Linked DNA regions of Homo sapiens: region 1 is linked to region 2. Evidence: fine-mapped expression QTL. A gene starts in region 2. The other region holds a variant in brackets. All regions are shown on one strand. Distances are from middle to middle. Region 1 overlaps NAA30 (N-alpha-acetyltransferase 30, NatC catalytic subunit). Region 2 holds the start of SLC35F4-AS1 (SLC35F4 antisense RNA 1).

What was found. PIP is the estimated chance that this variant, and not a neighbour inherited with it, causes the effect.
Region 1: its variant is fine-mapped to the expression of SLC35F4-AS1 in whole blood (TOPMed, PIP above 0.99). The same link has a PIP of 0.9 or more in blood mononuclear cells and lung.

What each region holds. Positions count from the first base shown.
Region 1 is chr14:57,403,908-57,414,132 of GRCh38, forward strand. It overlaps NAA30 (N-alpha-acetyltransferase 30, NatC catalytic subunit), which reads left to right. Exons shown (of 5, transcript NM_001011713.3): 5 at 5,472-10,225. The coding sequence ends at 5,609. Among named protein-coding and RNA genes, the nearest start is that of NAA30, 18 kb to the left of the region's middle. The variant G/A (reference allele first, on the strand shown) is at 5,640.
Region 2 is chr14:57,572,854-57,583,078 of GRCh38, forward strand. SLC35F4-AS1 (SLC35F4 antisense RNA 1) reads left to right here and starts at 5,480. Exons shown (of 2, transcript XR_007064193.1): 1 at 5,480-6,152; 2 at 8,134-10,225. It overlaps SLC35F4 (solute carrier family 35 member F4), which reads right to left. Exons shown (of 8, transcript NM_001306087.2): 4 at 8,361-8,580. It overlaps LOC105370519 (a long non-coding RNA gene), which reads left to right. Exons shown (of 5, transcript XR_007064194.1): 4 at 1-2,393; 5 at 3,445-5,427. RefSeq lists an enhancer at 8,387-9,586.

The sequences.
Region 1 (10,225 bases), 170 kb before region 2:
ATCAGTATCAGTATGATGAATAGTGCCTCGATTTTTAAGCCATTGATATCCTTAAAATCTTAATCTCTGAAAACTTCAAGGTTGTTTTTGTTTTGTTTTGTTTTGTTTGTTTGTTTTGTTTTTAGAGTTTTAGGCTGAGCACGGTGTCTCACGCCTGTAATCCCAGCACTTTGGGAGGCCAAGGTGGGTGGATCACGAGGTCAGGAGTTCGAGACCAGCCTGGCCAATATGGTGAAACCCCGTCTCTACTAAAAATATACAAAAATTAGCCAGGTGTGGTGGTGCGTGCCTGTAATCCCAGCTACTGGGGAGGCTGAGGCAGGAGAATCACTTGAACCCAGGAGGTGGAGGTTGCAGTGAGCCGAGATCGCGCCATTGCACTCCAGCCTGGGGGCCAGAGCAAGACTCCATCACACACACACACACAAAAAGAGTTTTTAGGTCGATTACTGTGAATATGAATAGCCAGAGATAACTGATCAGAATACAGTGGAATTAGGATTTCTTAATGGAATTTATAGTATCTTAAAATATTTTTAGTTGAAAATCACGTCATCTAATTTTTGCTTATTTATATTAAAGACATTTTTTCCATTGAAAAACCGTAATGAACATTACAGAAAACTTGGGAAACAGAAGAAGAAAGTTCACTACCTACCTTTCTAGCACGTTGTATTAGTCCGTTTTCACATTGCTGATAAAGACATACCTGAGACTGGGCAGTTTACAAAAGAAAGAGTACCACGTTGGATTTACAGTTCCACATGGCTGGGGAAGCCTCAAAATCATGGCAGAAGGCAAGGAGGAGCAAGTCGCATCTTACGTGGATGGTGGCAGGCAAAGAGAAGAGAGCTTGTGCAGGGGAATTCCTCTTTTTAAAACCATCGGATCTCGTGAGACTTAATTCACTCACGAGAACAGCACGGGAACGACTTGCCCCATGATTTAGAGACTCCCACCAAGTCCCTCCCACAGCACATGGGGATTCAGGATGAGATTTGGGTGGAGACACAGCCAAACAGTATCACACATCCAATTTGGTGTTTTCTTTCCATTCTTTTTTTGTTGCGTACATTTATTTTTACTAGACAGTTTCTTCTGTAAATAGTATGCCATGTAACTTGCGGCAGACTGTTTACAATCTGCTATTCAAACCCATGACTTTCCCTGCAACCTGATTTGCTTGACCTACTTAATGCTACTTATTTCTAGCAATATAAAGGTAATGCAAAAGACATTTTGGTAAATTTTAGATAATATAGTAGCTGACTCTATTTTGTACAATTAAAAGAATAAAATAGATCACATTAGCACTAATGAGTAAATTAGATTATTAGGAGCCAAGAAGATCTAAGTTATTTTTTGAAATAACTTATACTTTTCTAAATTAGAAAAGTCCAACTTAGAAAAGGTACAGTCATTCTTTTTCCCCCATTATAAAAGGTTACTTTTTATCTTTTTAATTAGACTATATTTATTGTGTTTATTATGTATTTACTAATAATATATATGTGTATATATATATATATAAAACATCTTTAGTTTCACTGGAAACATTATGCTATGTGATAGAGCCTGCAAGGTAAAGAACAGAATACAGTGGGGTTAGTTAAGCTGCAAGGATTTTGGGTGAGTAGTTTGGCCTAATAACTGATTATGAGACACCTGGTTTCCATATTTATCTTCTGTCACTTGGCAGTTGTGTGATTGTAGGCAGGCCATTTAACTTTTTCTGGTCTCTCTCTTTGTCTATGCAACATGATGTTAATTCTGATCTTAAAGATACGTTGTGAAGAGCAGTACTGTTTGTTGTTCATTCAGGAAATAGCAGTGGAAGGGCTTCTAGGTGCCAGACAGTGTGGTAGTGCTAAAGTTCTAGCAGTGAACAAGCCTGCTCTCCAGGAGCTTCCAGCCTACAGTATTAAAAAATACTATCTTAAGCAGTAATGTTTTGTAATGGTTTGGCTTATCCTGATAATGATCTGTTACTGTTGCTAAGAGGATCGGTGGAATTTCACTGTAATTTTTTTTTCTGTTAGGTAGAATTCAACTCTGTCAAGTTTCTTTAGGACCAAAATAACTTCATTTTATGGTGAATTTCTAATATAAATTCAGATATTCTTTTAATATGTTTATAAGAATTTAAGAATTAAAAATTAGTTACTTTATCCTGGCATTTTTCTGTTGTGTCAAATAATTTTCTAAAGAAAGAATCTCTTTGTTTAGAAAATATGAGTGTGCCAGGAGAATCTTTACATTTTGACTAGATTAGACATTGGTGTAACTTTTTTCTATGTAATTGAGCTTCATTTCATTAATATATTAGGATGCAAACAAACTTGAACTCAGTTCTTAACCACACTTTAAGTGTGTATTTGTGTAGTGGTGGTAGCCTCAGATGTGTTTGGAATATTTTAGATTGCTAAATATTGATGGTGGACTTAAAATCCATTTCATCTTGTCTTAAGTAGGTTAGATTTCCCAGTCACTGCTTTGCTTTACTTTGGGAAATGAGGGGGAGGTACAGTAGAGTAGTTACTATTAAGCTTTAGTTCATAATTGGACTCTGTTCTGTCCTTGCTCTGTTGGTGGCCTTGAGTTTTATTCATCTGTAAAATGGATAACCACATCAATTTCATAGGGTTATTGTGAAAATAAAACTACATAATACATATAGAATGCTTTACATTGCACATAGTACAGCTCCAATAAATATTAGCTGTCATATTTTAAAATTGTCACTTTTTATTTACGTGAAATCAATTCCAAGTTTTGAGTTGTTGTGACTTTAGTGTTTCTCATATTAAATTGCTTTGATTCAACATTTTAGCTATAATTAGGTGCTGGACCTCATAACAATTGCAGGAATTACCCAAGAGAATTGTTAAAAACTAAAAACTTGTATTGACCAGACTGTGGTGTTACAGACTCTAGTATGACATACGTTACTAGAAATTTAATTATGTCTGTGTGTGTATGTGTGAGTATTTTAATTTGTTTTTTGAGACAGAGTCTCGCTCTGTCACCCAGGCTAGAGTGCAGTGGTGCACTCACAGCTCACTGCAGCCTCAACCCCCTCGGCTCAAGTGATCCTCCCACCTCTGCCCCTCCAAGTAGCTGAGACTATAGGCACACACCACCACACCTGGCTAATTTTTAAGGTTTTTTAGACATGGGCTTTCACCACGTTGCCTAGCCTGGTCCCAAACTCCTGGGCTCAAGTGATCTGCCTTGACCTCCCAAAGTGCTGGGATTATAGACATGAGCCACCAAACCTGGCCAAATTGTGTTTTTTTTAAGTGCAGAGAGAAATTGACGTTTACTTAAACCAATTTGTTTGCTGTACAACTTGTATTTTAGGTTTTCTTAGGAGCGTGTTTTCTTGATCCTGAACTGTTAATTACTTCATTTTAGATCTTTTAAAGGTTTAGATTTAGCATTGGTCCCTGCTGTTGTTGGGCTTACCAGCTAGGAGAGATGACATACCACTCATCAAATGTTGAATAAGAATGTGTCATAGGAACGGTGCAGAATGTTGCTGGGTGATATAAAAGGAAAGGGGCACTGTACCCAATCCAGAAGTGACAAGGTAGGGCCAAAAGAGAGGAGGATAGGAAGAGCATTCTTCTAGACAGAAAACAGTTTATTTGAATGTTCTAAGGTGGGAAAGATCATGGTGGGTTCCAGAAACTGAAAATTCAGTGTTGAGCATGGAAAGCAAGAAGAGAGAGACCTAAAGCAAAGCTGAGGCCAATATATTGATGGACTTTTTATGTCTCTTGATATTATTTTTAGATTGTGGACTTTCTCTTGAGGACAAGAGGGAATCAGTAAACGGTTTTAAGTAGAGAATTAACAAGAGCATCACCCTAACTCTAGAGAGAATGGGAGACCTCTTGAGTTAGGAGGCTCTTGTAATTATAGTGAGAGTTGATGGCAGCTTGGACTGTGGTATATCGAGCATAGAAAGAAGAGGACCACTTAGAGATTTAAGAGGGAGAATTGACAATAATCAGTGCTTGGATGCATATAGGTGGTTGGAGAGGAATGAGGTTCAAAGATGACTCCTGGGTTTCAGGTTTGAGGCATTGGTGTGGTGGGGGGTGATCCTGTTTACTGAGATATGGAATTGAGGAGGAAGAGCAGATTATGAGTTCAATTTTGGATATAAGTTGAGGTACTGTCTTTATTATTTGCATCAGTTGTTTGCATTCTTGTCAGACTTTTTGATAGCTTGAGAAAGAACAGGAAGAGACTTATGCTTCACTTGGGCCTTTGTTTAATTATACTTTGCCATTTCCCCCCCACCCACTCCAAACACTTGAGGGTTATGACACCCAATAGTAACTGTGGCTCACTGTGTTGATAGTTCTCAATGAAATAAGTTGAGAAACAATTGAAAAGGCAAATAGAGCTACGTGTGTAAAAGTTGGGAAGATGGGGTAGAGGGTGTTAGAGGGAGGTAAAAATAAAATCGCAGTTTTCAAAAATACCAGTTATTCATTGTCAGGGCCACTGGCTCAGTAATATTTCAAAAGACTTAAATGAAAGTTAATACTATGTGTTCCTCTGTTAAGCTTTGCTATATAGACCAGTGGTTCTCAAAATGTGGTCCCTTGACCGCAGCAACATCATCATCTAGCAATTTAAAAATATTAAAAATGCAGATTCTTGTGTCCTACTGCAAACGTACTCATAAACTCTGAGGGTGGGGCTCAGCAATCTATTTTAACAGACCCTTCAGGTGATTATGATACACTGTAACATTTTGAATACCTCTTGTCTGGATTCAGCAAACTTTCTTGGTAAAAGGCCCACTAGTAATTATTTTAGGCTTTGTGGACCATAGGTCTTTGTGGCAACTGCTCAGCTCTGCCCTTGTATTGAGAAAGCCACCACAGACATCATGTAAACAAATAAACATGGCTGTTTGACTAAAACTTTATTTACAAAACAGCAGGCACATTTGGCCCAAAGTCTATAGTTTGCAGACTCTGGTCGAGACTCCAGACAAATATGGTAGTTATTGCCAGAATAAATGACATATTAATGAAAATACAGAAGTTGGAAGTCAATCTGAATAGCTGCTTATAATAATATAGCTTATTATTTTAAGGAAATAAACCAGCACTTTTGATTGTTGATTTTATTTTCATCTGTAGTCATTTTACCTTTCCCCACAGGGAAATAATTAATCTTTGTTTTAGTATAAAACATACTCTCATTGCTAAACATTTCAAACTACACAAATCAGTAGAACAGAAGATAAATCTGCAGTGGTCCTCCAAGCCCTTGACCCAAATATAATATTACAATCTTGATGACTGTTTTTGAGTTCTTTCTGTATATTATTTATTGTTTTCACTATCAATTTTTAAAATAATGTATGATTTTTTAAAAAATTGTTTAGTTGGTAAATTATTTTTTAAATTGTGTAATTATAACTTAGTTTTTTTCTCATTTCTTTGAAGGTTGTTTTGGAAACCGAAATAACAAATAAGTCCGCTTTGAAACTTTATGAAAATCTTGGTTTTGTTCGAGATAAGAGGCTGTTCAGATACTATTTAAATGGAGTTGATGCACTGCGACTTAAACTGTGGCTGCGTTGAGAAACTGACATCAAGGAACAACTATCATCC[G/A]CACAGAATCGACCTTTGCATGCAATGCAATTTGTACAGAATTGCTTTGCAGGTGGATTTAGTAATTTCCATGCAGCTCTTACCTGTCAGTGTCTCATTGAGTGTCGCACAATATTTGTTGCACTTTGGCATGGCACATTTGTTCTGAATTAAAAGATTGTTTTAAACTTCAGGAGTTCTTTTGGTACCAACAAGATGTGCCAGTTGATAGCCAAGATTTATGTGTTCATTTGCAAAGTCTGCTGACAATGTTATTTACACAGTGATCATTTTATCACAGAACCAGTAAGTGGAACATAATTTTTGTTCCTTAAAAAAGCCAATGTGGATTGTAAAAGTCTTTAAGTATACTAACATTTCACACAAAACCTGCCCTAGTTTTCTGAAGTGGGTGAGGGAGACGCTTCAGTTTTAGGTTTTATTTTTTCAATATTAAATTTTCCATTCTTGAATATTGGTACCTCAGTGATTAGTGAATGAAAAAAATGTAGGGTGGGTATGTCTTACAATGAGTAAAGGTAACAATTAAATTTTGTCTGCCAGTGCCTGTGTAGATAAGTATATTTGTCTTCATCTCTAGTTTTTGAATGCATGCTATCTTTTCCTTTTCTTTAAGGCCTTTGCAAGCAAACTTTTGTTTTTATTTAAATTCTAAATTTGATAAATTATTTCAGATTTTTATAATTTGGATACTTTTTTCAGGTGAATGAAAGAATGGTTTACTTTAGAAGTCCCTTTTTCCTTACAGTAACAAGTTGAATCTACTTGGAAAATTGAGAAATGGCTCAAAAGAGATAAGAAAAGTTGATGGAGCCGGGAATTGCTGGGGTTTAGATGCACTTTTTCTTTTGAGAGTAAGGGAAGTTTTGGAAAAGAATAGAAAATTAGTGTAAGTTGATATGATTTTATTTAATCAAAATTACTGCTACGCTGCGAAGAACAGCTTTTACAAAGTAGCTGAATTTGTTTTTCCCACTTGATTTGGATTCACATTGCTTTCATTTCTTAAAATGCTTCACTTCAGGTTCTTGGTCTTGGAAATAAATTTCAAGGTGCATTGTATCCATTTTAAGCTGCTTTATTTTATTTTCACTTGTATGAGCAAATTCTTGGGGGAGCTTTGCTTTTCTTCTGCCAGAAAAACAAAAGGGGGAAATGAAAATCTTTTTTGGAATGAGTTCTGTGGGTTTTCTTAACAGCCACCATGTTTATTAGTTACATTGTGTTTTGGCCAATCAGTGCAATGTAACAAATTTTACAGTTAATTGCTTTCAATTGAGTCAGTAAACCTGTGATAGATAATTTATTTAACTGGAAAACCTAGGTACCCATAAGAAAAAAGATTCATTCTCTGTGAAAACTGTAGGAATCTGTTGTTGTTTTCATTTGAATATGCTCTACTTCTGCTCTAGTATTTGGTTTGGAATATATTTTGTGGCTCTAATTACTGTATTTTTAAAAACCCTACCTCCATTAACAGTTGGTAAAGGCCCCTTTTCAGGAAAGTTTGTTGCTTTTTTTTTTTTTTTAAAGGAAAGCTGCTCTTTGCTCAGTATAGTGTTTTGAAAGTGAACATAGTAACAAATACTTTAAAAATAAAGATACACAATTTATATTTGAAAATAAAAACTTTCTGCTGGTGGGATTATTTATAGTTCTTTATTTTTAAAGAAAATGTTTTCCTTTTTATATTGCTCTTGAAAGTTTAATGAGCAGAATACAATACTGGTTATAATAAAAATATGGTAACCACACAGTACTCAGCCTTTCAATATGTTTTTGGTCAAACTTCATTTAGGCACTAGCATTTAGAAGAATACCAATCACAGTGATGCTTTTGTTATTTAATATGAAGGAAATGGAACTAAAACATTTATGTCATCAAATTTTATTTCACTTCTTTATATTTGACTTGCTGGTTGATACATAATGGTTGATGAACATATATTTGCTTAAATCACTAATAGGGATGGTTGTAAAGTAGATAGATCATTGGTTCAACCATTTTAGTGTTTTTGCCAGATTGTCAATGAAACCATCATACTGACCTTTTCCTCCAAAATTGCCAAATTGACTGAACTGGTTGGGTGTTTGTAAAGATGACGTTAACTGTGTGACTAAAAAGTCAGATGGTTGCCATATTGTTTGGAATATGTTGAATGTCAGTGTATGCCTTATGTCTTTAATTGGGTATGCAAAAAAATTTTTACTTAAGTAGATTAAAATTTTAACCTCTAGCATGAAAACCCAGCACCAACACTGAAAGACTCCATTCAGGTTGAAGTAGCCTCAAACAGTAATTTACTTTTTGATAATAGGCTGTTGTTTTTCTTAAATAAGCTTAAAACAATTCTATCTGAAATTGGTAGCATGGGTTCACTTGGCTACAACTGAGCAAAATAGATGCAACTTTCTTTTAATGGGGTGCTGCCTCTTTAGGACTGACTGTACTATCCACTGACACTGGTTTGGCAGTTGGTACTGCTGAACATTTTTATACATGCTACCATGAAGCTATATATGTTAGTATTGAAGAAGCTAACGGGTATACTATCATTTTTGATGTGTGGGCTGATTATAATTTCCTGTATTTCCTGTACATTGGGATGAAACTACTTTAGCAAAGTCCACAGATCAGAAACCAGACGGTAGTTTTTGAAGTTGAAACCAGCAAAATAAGAAAAAATAAAAAATCGATTTTAATATTTTCTGCCTCTTTCCCAAATTACCCTTCCCACTTGCTCGACAAATCTATGTAAAGCAGTTTGTTTTTTCATGTTTTAACTTTACCTTGCCCTGTGTTATGGTACTGGCTGACATGTCTAAGACTGGATGTGTATATTTATTATGGTGTCTAAAAATCATGAAGTTCATCACTTTTCAGGAGTATAGATAAAATCAAATTGGTAGTACATCAGAGTTACTTTTCAGTGCACCATGACATCACTAAAATGAGTGCTGTAATGTTACAGGGCTTTCAGGTTTGTAAAAACATAACCATAAATTATATTGACGTCAGATATGAGTTGAGTATCTATAAAATATCACGTGTATCTCAAAATATTGGACTGCTGTTTGACTGGATATTGCTGCATAATTTTCTTCTATTGTCCCATATCCTTTTGGAGAGAGATTTAATGGGATTTGAAATGTGCAAGCTGTCTAAATAAGATGCAGTCAAATAAAGTATGGTTAAGTTGTGTTTGCATTTTTCTTTTAGATACAGCTGTGTGCATTTTATGATTGGGTTGTTTTGCTTTTACCTACTAAGTAAAACAGCAACAAACAATATATTGTTTCCCGCTTCCTGCCTTTCATCTAAGAGTTACGGGGAAGAAGTATTACATAATTGTCATCACTGTTGTGTGTTCTGACAAAGTAAATTTGAAAATAACATGAACTTGATTTTTCTAAAAGTACTCAGTCAACTCATATGTCAGTTATCGGTACATTTTCCATGTGTTCAGTCAAAAGTTTATCTTTTTAGTCTGTTTCATAGCAGTTTATTTCTAAGACAGTTTTTATTTTAATTTACTTTTTTGTCTGTACACTGCCACTCTGTAATGTTCCCCCCACCCCATCCCACCCTTGGTAAGACACCAAAGTAAAATAGAGCAATATCCAAAGAGCTTTTTGCCCCTGTCTTGTGAGGAGCTTTAAATAGCTGTGAATACTTCTGTATGTCAAGATTTTCGGATTTTAGTGGAAGGATGAAATGATCTGTTTTAATCATTTAACTGCTAAATTACTTTTATCATGCATGCCAAATCTTTACATTATTCTTTAGAGTAATACTGTAAAAGTATCTGAGTTTGTTTTATTTGGGCCTTATGTGGAACTCGAAATACTTCATAAATTCACTCTAAGGTCTAAATAAGAACCAGAAGGTTGATACCATTTTTTCACACCAGTAAACACAGATCAGTATTAACCTGTAGCCCAGAGGTGTTAGATTTATTTTTTGAGACAGAGTCTCACTCTGTTGCCCAGGCTGGAGTGCGGTGGCACAATCTTGGCTCACTGCAACCTCTGCCCCCTGGGTTCAAGCAATTCTTGTGCCTTAGCCTCCTGAGTAGCTGGGACTACAGGTGCATGCCACCACGCCCAGCCAATTTCTTGTATTCTTAGTATGAGACAGGGTTTCACCATGTTGGCCAGGCTGGTCTCAAACTCCTGACCTCAAGTGATCTGCCCGCCTCGGCCTCCCAAAGTGTTGGAATTACAGGCGTGAGCCACCACGCCCAGCCTATGATATTCTTTTTATAAGCAACTTTTAAAAAGTTTTTTAAAAGATCTCATAAGCATATAGCACTGCTACACTTTAGATCACTACTGTCCAGTCACACTTTATATAAGGATAGATGTGTCCTTTTCACTCCCCAGTATGGTAGTTACTAGTCACATGTGTAGCTACTGAGCCCCTGAAGTGTGGGTGGGATGATTGAGCTGAATTTGTAATTTTAATCAAAGTTAGCCACATGTGGCTTGTGGCTACTGTATTGGACAGCAGAGCTTTAGATAAGCAGTAATAACAGGAAGGGAGTGTTTGTATAGGTTGAAAGATAAAATGGAAGGATCACAATTAG
Region 2 (10,225 bases):
TGGAAAGCAGTTCAGAGCTATAGCAAACAGTAAAATGATGCTGGAACAGGTGACAATATGTCATTTCCTTGTGAAATGGTTTCACTGACTTTAAAATCCAGATGAAAATTGGTGAGAAATTTAAACCTACATGGTGATTAATTTTGTTAAGCTTCAGTTCTGAGTATTCCCAAGTAAAGAAATTCTTCAGTTCTGAGTATTCCCAGTAAAGAAATTCCCAAGTAAAGATAGCTTTTTAACATATGTGATTTTCGGGGGCCCTTTTGAACACTATTAGTGAATTGTTTTTTATAACGTAGATTTTTAACATGTAATTACTGACTCGCTTGAGGCCACTGCAAAGTATGTTCCCAATTACATAGAATTCAGACGCTGCTAAAGCATGTCTTTTGTTAGTGGCCACCAAAAGCAAGGGCCCACTTGGTTTCAGAGTAGCTCCATATTAAAGTGTCCTTAATGAAAAACAGCAGGAGTACTTGAGAATAGACATAGACATGTCAGCAGTGAAAAACCATCTTCATTAAACATTATCCAGGAGGCTGCTTGATGGGAGGTGGTTTTCTTGCTGAGTGAATATCATATTCTCTGAAGCTGCCGGGTGTGTGTTCTGGTTAGACTTGGCCTTAAACTATAAGGAATAGAATTTAAGAATTTAGGTGTCAAGGAGATTTCTAAATAATAAGTAATAGACTCATCAATAAACACAGTGAGGGGGTTATCTAGACCTGGATAAAGGTCTAGACTCATCAATACACACAGTGAGGGGGTTATCTAGACCTGGAAATTCTATGAGGGTTATCATTTTCCTTGATTTGGGGATTTGCAACAGTTCTTTGGGGGATCTGATTTCAGGGAAATAAAAAAGGCACATTAGATATTGGCATATCCTGATTTGGTTTTGTGTTTAAATGATGTTCACTGGTTAGTGTTCATGTGCACAAATAGATTTCCTTCATAAGACTGAACTGACGGGATAATACATTTGAGTTAACGTTTGTTTTCTTTTAGCTAAGCATTGCATTTTCTAGGTCAAATAAACAAGCGGTTACTTGAAGCCAAGGCTAACAAAACTGTAAATCCTAACGAACTTTCACATGATGTGCTATTTTATATTTTAAATTATTAAAAGCATTCTATAATACATAATACATGGGTTTAGGCAATTACACACTGTAGTATGTAATTCTGGGTTTAGAAAATTGTGAAAACCAATTAAAAAACCCCAAAGCACAAAACAAAATCCTGTCTAGAAAAGGACAGGCAGTTGGTTTCATTATCCCCAAGATATGACCACAGGTAGGAACTCTTCCTTTTCTGAGTTAGCTACTAGTAAAAATAGATATGCATAAAGTTTCTATTATGTTTCCTCAAGATAGGAATTGAACATGGGTAAAGATTACATAACTCTGTAGCAATTCAAAATTATAACCATAGTGAGCCTCTTAAAGATCTTCATTACTCGTTATATTCAAGTGCTTGTGAAAATATTAGCCTGGACCACTTAAATTGACATGTCAATTACAGCAGTGTCTCTTTCAATTGCCTTCACAGAGAGAAGCATTTTTCACTTTAGGGGGTCAGACAATGCTGTTAAGTTCTGAAAGAATGAAAATCTGAATATTTGAAATGTTAGAAAAATTCTCCATGACATGAGCAGTAATTCATAAGTTATATAGTATGTTCCTGGGGCAGGGTGCGGGTGGAGGGTATAGTGGGAATAGATAAATTATTTGCCACATTTTAGTTTAAATTTCAAAAATATCTGATAGGTCAAATTCTCTATGGCTATATTTTAAGAAATTTTAAATATATTTCTTATCTATACTGTTGTAAGTGAAGGAAGAGATCTCAACTAATCTTGAAAATGAGGAAAAATTGTGGAGTGGTTGTTTGGGTGATCTCAGAATGGCTCTGCTTGGCACCACTGGTTTAACTTTAGAGAGTAAATACTCTTTAGATGTCTGGAGAACAAATATCCTAAGCACGTATCAGTCACACACATTTTCAGAATCAATCAGTCATCAAAGAGGGATTAATACTCTGTTCTTCTCAACAGAAAAACACAAAACGACTCTTCTTGGCCTCAGCTTTCTGGAAATGTGTCTGCAGGAAGCCAGTGCCTAAAATATTGTGTCAAAAATGCTCATATGTGTTCATTCACATGAAGACAACCACTAAAGTGCTCCTGGGACACATTAACATCCATGAGAGGAATTCTTCTGCTGAAAATACACCATCTAGTGGTGCCACCTGCTCGGCTTCTGAAAAATCTGTCTCTTGACAATCTATTCCAGTTCCAGCCTCTTAACCAACCAGAAGTGTCTAAATAAGATGGAAAACTAGGCCAGGCACAGTGGCTCACGCCTGTAATTCCAGCACTTTGGGAGGCCCAGGTGGGTGGATCACTTGAGGTCAGGAGTTCGAGACCAGCCTGGCCAACCATGGCGAGACCCCCATCTCTACTAAAAATATAAAAAGTAGCCGTGCTTTGGTGGCACATGCCTGTAATACCGGCTACTCGGGAGGTTGAGGCAGGAGAATCTCTTGAATCTGGGAGGTGAAGGTTGCAGTGAGCTGAGATCACATCACTGCACTCCAGCCTGGGCAACAGAATTAGACCCTGTCTCAAAAACAAACAAAAAAGATGGGGAAAAAAAAAACTCACCATTACCATTATCTGAACCTGGCTTAGGTGAGAATGTTAGTAACCATAGTGACCATAAAACTGCCAATGCCTCCATTTAAAATGTTTAAACCTCTCTGCCCTCACACATTGTGGTGTGCCCACCTGGGGTGAGTCATTGAAGGAAGAGGATTTATTTAGCCCATTATCTCAGCATGCCAGTTGAGTGGCATGGCCTCGTGAGCCAGCTATCTTCCTCTGCAGGCTGGGGCCCTCAGACAGCTCTCTGCACTAATTTTCAGAGCCAATCAGAAGGGATCCGTGTGGCCATTTGAGCCTGTTCCTAAAGCCCAAAGAGGGCTTTACCAGTGGACATTTGGTGATCTCACTGTACTAAATGCTACCTGTGACCCTGCATGGAGGGTGTTTCTTTTATCTTTCAAATAATTAGTTTGTACAGATAAAGCCTAAAGAAATATCTGGCTTTTGGCCGTTTTTGTTTTCTTGTATCTTTTTTTTTTCTTTTTTCTTTTTCTCTTTTGGCTCGGGCCATCAAAAGCCCACAAAGGTTTGGTCCTTCTGTGCATCTCCATGAGGGTTTATCAACCTGATCCCATTCACTATGGTTCCCACTCACAGATGGTTTTCACAATTCTTATTTGCATAACAGTACCAGCTCTTTTAGGGTCCAAGGCATTGGATGAACCTTTAGTTGCTTCTCTTCCTACAGTGTTCCTTTAAGATTTTAAAGGTCAAGATGACTGATTATAATCCAAACATGTTTCCTTACTTTGCCTTGAGGCTAATTCTGTTTCTTGAAGCTAGGTGAGTATGAAGCAGCTGGTTCACAAATGAACCCTTGAATTCCAAAGCCTACAGCAGCCCCTAAAAATGCAGATCTCAGACCACACTGCTGGCAGCTGCTGTGCTCAAGTTGAAGACTAAAGGTCAGTAGTTGAGGTTGGGACACACATTAATAGTTTGACGAATGAGAAACATGCTAATGATTATCTCTCTGGGTAAATTTAGATACAGTTGATTTTCAAGGAACTATGGCTATACAGAATCCTTAAACTTCTGCATATGTTATATTTAAGGTTCTATGGAAAACTTTCTTTTTTACTCAGATTCAATTAAACTGAACAAGTGCTGAAATGTGAAAAATAAGAGGTGTGGCAATCTATAGCTGTCCAGATGCTGTGTGTGACAGGGGGAAGGGGGGTACCTTGGATAGCAGCAAACCCAAGGGATGCTGGGCCTCTGAACTCCCCCTCTCCCTACATGCATGGATTTTTATCTGAATAAAATCCATTTGAAAATGATCTCAGAGGGAGACCTGGATGTCAAAGTTGTAAAGAAATCCCACGAAGAAAGAGTGAAGGATATATGTGGAGGGTAGACACATTGACTGCACCATGTTGAAGGGGTTACAGATTCCTTGAGGGTGTAAAATCGGACAGCCAGCACAACCCAGCTGTCTCCTCTCTTGGCTATATTCATAAGTCATTGTCCTGCCAAGATAGGGGTAAGAGGGAGGATGACTCCCACTGTCCATCCTCCACTGCCTCTTCCAGGAAGCATGGAAGCTCTGGGCAGAGAATTCTGCATTGCACATGAATAAAGAGGAGCCAAAGGCAAGATGGAAACAAATTGTCAAGTTACGTGTCATCTTAATTCTTAATATTTAATATCAGCATAAATCAGTAGCAGCTCAGCTCCAATGTACTGTTTTAGCCTTCAGGGGCCCAATTTGAATTCAAAGAAGTATATGCTATACCATGAAAGATTCAGTTTAACTGATGTACTTCAGTCAGTTTTTGGTAGATCCTGGAAAGTCTTTGAAAACAGCTATAGTTTGGGAAGCTAACTAACTGCACAGGGACCCAAATATAGCTGGAAAATATGTGGCTCCCAAGCCAGAGGGACACTAATGCATTTCACAGTCTGCTAAGACAGTTGGGATCTGCTGAACCATCCACCAACCACCAACATTCTCCATATCTTCAAGGAAATTGGAAAATATAAGAAAAATTTGAATGAATAGTATAAAAAAATAAGAGAGGGACAAAATCTGAAAGAAAGTTTCTACCATTCTAGTCTGGCATCTACTTTTCATTGGTGTAAAACAGATACCAACAGCAGAGAAGAAAGCTCCCAGCCAGTGGCACATTCCCCTTGGGAAGAACCTTTTTTTAAAAAAAAAAAAATTAAGGTGGGTTCTCTGGTTCTTACGAATTTAAGAACTCTAGCTAAACATAATAAGGTCTGAGAGACAGGAGAACACCTATTTTCAAGGCTGCAAGAGCTGGATTATCACTTTCTAACATTTTTGCAATCAAAAAATTATCTTTTAAAGAAGTTTACTAATTTTCATGGGATGATCACAGATTAGCTGCAAGCAATTTGCTCATGAAAGGGCTTTTTATAACACATCATAGATTACCAATAAATGGGCTGAAATGACTTCATACTAAATGTAAAACAGATTACCTTTCCATCTGTAATTCAGTGTTCAAAAGAAACAAAATATTAGCAAGTTATTCATAATACATAATTCATTTTTATGTGAGCATTAGTAATTCTGGCCTACTTGTGGTCCGGATAAACCCATATTTATGATGTTGTAACTTAAAGTGTCTTTCACTCTGTTCATGGTGTTCTTTTTACATTAAAAAAAAAAATTAGAAGTAGGGAAGGCCATAGCTTCTCATTTTAAATGTGCTCATTCCTGGGGAGCTAAGCATATGAAAATTATAATCCAACAAACATCTGTTTCTAAACTACTGATGCTTTAGCATGAACTAGAAATATAAATTTTAATCTGATGACTGAAAGCATCCCTTTAACTGTTTTTTTTTTTTTTTTTTTTTTTTTTTTTTTTTTTTTTGAGTAGTCCAGTGGGATGACATCTGGAGGGGCTATGCTTTAGATTATTTATAGATGTGGGCAATAAGAGCTACATTTATGTTGTCAGTGCTGTTTGCCCTCGTTTAATTTCTCAAATGACCTAATTATATGTGTTCTCAATATGTCTTGGGAGGAAAATAATTGCTGATACTGTCAAAGGCAAAATGCTGAATATGTTTCAGTGCTTCTCACATTCCATGGCCTGATTATGGGCATCATTAAATTACACGTTACCATTCTTCCGGAACATCGCATTGAACATGTCCTAATGTTTCACAATGAGAAGTGAAGCACTTCCTCTTACTTAAAAAGAAAAATATTTGATTTTTACAGGATGCCTGACACTAATGCTTACTATTCTGCTATCTATGATGTCTTCACTTATGGATATATTTATTAACAAGTACTTATTAGCTATTTAACATTTCCTCTACTGAGTGTTATTAATTACAGATGCTGTATTAGTTTCCTAAGGCTGCTGTAACAAATTACCACAAACGTGGTGACTTAAAACAACAGAAATTTATTCTCTCACGGTTCTGGAGGCCAGAAGTTCAAAATACAGCTGGGACCAAAGGCATCTCTAAGGAAGGATACAGTCCTTGCCTCTTCCAGGGTTCTGGTGAGTGTCCCGGCATTCCTGGCTGGTGACCACATCACTCCAATCTCTGTGTCTGTGATCACATTGCCGCCACCTCCTCTTCTGTGTGTGTCTCTTTTGTGAGTCTTTCATAAGGACACTTGTTATTGGATTTAGGTCCCACTCAGATAATCCAATATGATGTCCCCTTTTCAAGATCCTTAAGTTAATAATATCTGCAAGGACCCTTTATCCAAATAAGGTCACAGTGACAGATTTGGGGGATTAAGATGTGGACAGATCTTTTTTGGAGTCACCACTCAACCCACTGCAGATGGCAAATTTTAAATGGCAATGGTTGGTAGCCTATAGGCAGATTTTTGATTTTTAAAATCTGCTATTTAAAGATAAGTTACACAGTTGTTTTCTTTTTCTCTAAAATACCTCAAATAAACACTGTACCTTTTTGGACGTAACCTCTTGCATCAGTGAGGTCCATGAGTTAAATGTGCTCATTTGCTTTAATACAACGGATTTTATTGCTGGTATATCTAATGGTGAAAATATGGATTTAATGTTGGTATTTGCACGCCACTAAAAGAACAAAAGAGCCTCCAAATCTCTCTTCTCCCCTCTTCTGACAAGGCTCTCCAGGTTCTTATGGGTGGTCCATGATAGTGAAAGACAGTGAAAAGAAAGATCTCAGAAGTATGAACTCATTTACTATATCCTCAAATATCAATCGAACCCCCACTTCGTGCCCTGTAATATTCTAGACATTGGAAGTAGAGACAGCTGACTTCCTAGGGGATGACTTATGTTGATATATAGGGCCTTGTGCTTGGAAGGTCCCCACCCTTGGCTCAGTGCTCTGTTGTTGTTATCTTAAAATTATTAATATTCATTTTGCACTGGGCCCCATGGATTATGTAGCAGATCTTGAAAAGAACAGTGGACAATATAGGAAAGCTTCCAGCTCTCAAGGACTTGTCAGGGTATCTGATGGTAGACAGCCAGCACCAGTGCCCCAGACATAAATATGTGATGCTGAGCCCTTTGGGGTCAAATCTAAGATAAGCCAGTAAAGAATGTAGTGTCACATTTGGATATACTGTAATGGTATCATGGACTGACTCACAGTTTCTGATTTTGTCTTCTATCAAAACTTTCTACTTATTAATATGAAGCTTCATTTCTAAATTTCAGAGCAGCATCTCCCAAGATACAATCAGAATTGTCTAACTAACTGTTTTCTTAAGAAAATCTTTCAGGGTTAATGACCATCATAAACCCTCTCTCTAACATAGACATTAGTTTCAGCATTTGGGAGGGGGAAAGGACCTTGGAATCATTGCCAATAAGAGCAATGTTTTTATAACAAAATATGTTTCAAATTCTATCTATCTTGGACATCTCTTTCAGAGAAGATAAGTTGTGTAATATTGATACTCTGAGAAAAGGCAATTCATTTATACCTCCTTCTAAAGAAGTGTTGTCTCAATATGTTCATCATAGTGGCATGCCGGATTATATGAATGAGATCTGGCTCCTTAAATCTTCAGGGCTTCCCAGCAATCTATTTTTAACATAGAACAAGCATATAAATATATATGTTTTTAATCCATATTACTCCTGAAAGGAATAAACTCAGAACTGAAGTTGTTGGTGGAAGTTTAATGCAGTTCAATTAAGGATTTGTATCCAAAAGAAGTTGTTGCTTGTACTTCCATTTCTGCATTAGTCACACTAGATATATAGTCACTTTTAACAGCATTGTGCCATTACCAGTGACTTTAATTACTGTTTGGTAATCTTATCTACTTACACCAATATTAATTAAGTCCATCTGGTGGGGGGAATGGGGGGTCATCTCAACATATGTTGATTGAAAAATGCAAACCATAATCTTTATAGTGGCTAATTTTCTCAGACCCTTCGTTCCTGAGGACAGAAGGAGGTGAACACACCATTAGTTCTAAAAATTAATTCTAATATAGGAACTTGTTTTCTCTGCCTGTTTTAGTGCCTCCTGTTGGAATGAGCTCACTAACCAGTGGAAACAAACTGTTTATCCTTCTATGATGTTGCAACTGCCTGGGCTTTCTAATGCGTCTTCAGATTTCGGTTTGTACTCAGAACAAGTGAGAAAAGTTTTACAGCAACTCCACGAAACAAAGCAGACAGGCTCTCCTGAAGCCAAGGAGTTATGAAAAAGGCAGGCATCGCGCATTGAATCAAGTATGCCATTACCCTCACTCCCATGAACCTGTCTTTCAGCACAATCCATGACAGCAAGAAGACAAAGGCTTTGTTACAACAGAACAGAGCGGAGACATCCGTGGCCGTCAGCTTCTTTAAAGCCAGTAAATAAAGGTAATTAGTCAAAGTCCATAGAATAGAAAAGGGAGCAGTTCTTTTAAGAAAGAGTTTCAGCGTCAGACCATCTTCACCAAAAATCCGACTGCATTCCCTAGGAAAGAAAAGAGAAGTTAATATCCAGGTACTGATGGTGACACCTCTTGTCTTATCTGACTCATCGCAGCCATTTTCAGGTAAGAGCACAAACACTCAATACCCATCCTTCATTGTGAAGTATACTGAACCCAGTTCTGAAATCTGCGGGCTTCAGGGAGTGTATGAGGTTCCTTGGAAAATAGCCCACATGTGCCCAAGCACAGAGTTAGGCTCTCTTCTCTGAGATAGTCTCTGGAGGTTGCCTGAAAAGCCATTCTGTCGTTTTTGAGCATTCTCAGAAGAGCCTGCAGAAATACCGAAATTGGTAGTTGCTGAAATCACTAGCTATTGGAAGAGGGTGGGCAAACGAGAGAGGGTCAAGGCTGCTACTACTCTGTGAACGGGCTACAGACAACTCCTAGAACCCGGAGGGAAAGGGACCCTCATACATCTGTGCAGCACACATGTTTTTGGATTTTATTTCTAAGACACTAAGCCACTTTCTAATATATCTGCCCAATTGACTAATTTTTTTTCCTGCCAGCATTTTTAAGGCAGAAAAATGAAGTCCCTGTGATAACTCCCACATGATAAAAACTATAATAGAAAACTCAGGTTGTACTTATATACAAACATTTGGCCCTTTTGGAGGAATTGTCTAAATTCGGTGTGAGAAAATGGTCACTTCAATTGTTAAATCTTCGGTTTGTTTGATTTTTCAAGGAAGTTGGCTACATTTAGCCCCAGGGGCCATTTTTTTCCTTTAAGTCCTAGGCCTAAACATGATTTTTTTTTTCCCCCTAGGTCTGGCTCTCTTACCCAGGCTGGAATGCGGTAGCATGATCTTGGCTCACTGCAACCTCCGCCTCCCAGACTCGAGCCATCCTCACACCTCAGCCTCCTGAGTAGCTGGGACTACAGGCACGCACCACCATGCCAGGCTAGTTTTTGAAATTTTTTTGTAGAGACAGACAGGATTTCACTCTGTTGCCTAGGCTGGTCTCAAACTCTTAAGCTCAGGTGATCTGCTCACCTTGGCCTCCCAAAGTGCTGAGATTACAGGCAAGAGCCACTGCACCTGGCTCTGAGGGGCCATTTTAATAAAAATGTTCAAGCTAGCAATACATACAGGCAATAATGGAAGTGATACAATGACTGTACCTATACGACTATGGACTGAAGACAGACTTACCACTGGGAGAATTTTAATTTTTTTCCCACTCGATTGTTCATGAACATTCAAGTATTTATGGGGTAACTGTCATGCTCCAGGCATTGTATTTTCATGAGTAGTATATGTTTATAATGAAATCTATTTACAGGACTCTAGTACTAGTTTCTTTTCCAGTTTTAACTGAAATTAGTGTGCCTCAAAGTATTGCAAATCAAAGTAAATTCTAGCCAATGTTTGCCTCACATGAATAACCCCAAAAAAGGACCACGTGGAGAGGAGGAGTGACAAAGAATTAGGCACAGGGAGTATAGCCTTAAAGATTAAGTTTCATAGTAAATGTGACTTTCAACTGGATGAGAATGTTGGGAGTTGCAGGTCACCGGTTCCAGGAAGGTTAAAGACATGTGTTGCACACACAGAAACTTGTATTGAAATTTGTTTACTTTCATGTAAGGAGGCTTCCAAAAAGGAAGGATTTTTGTAAAAT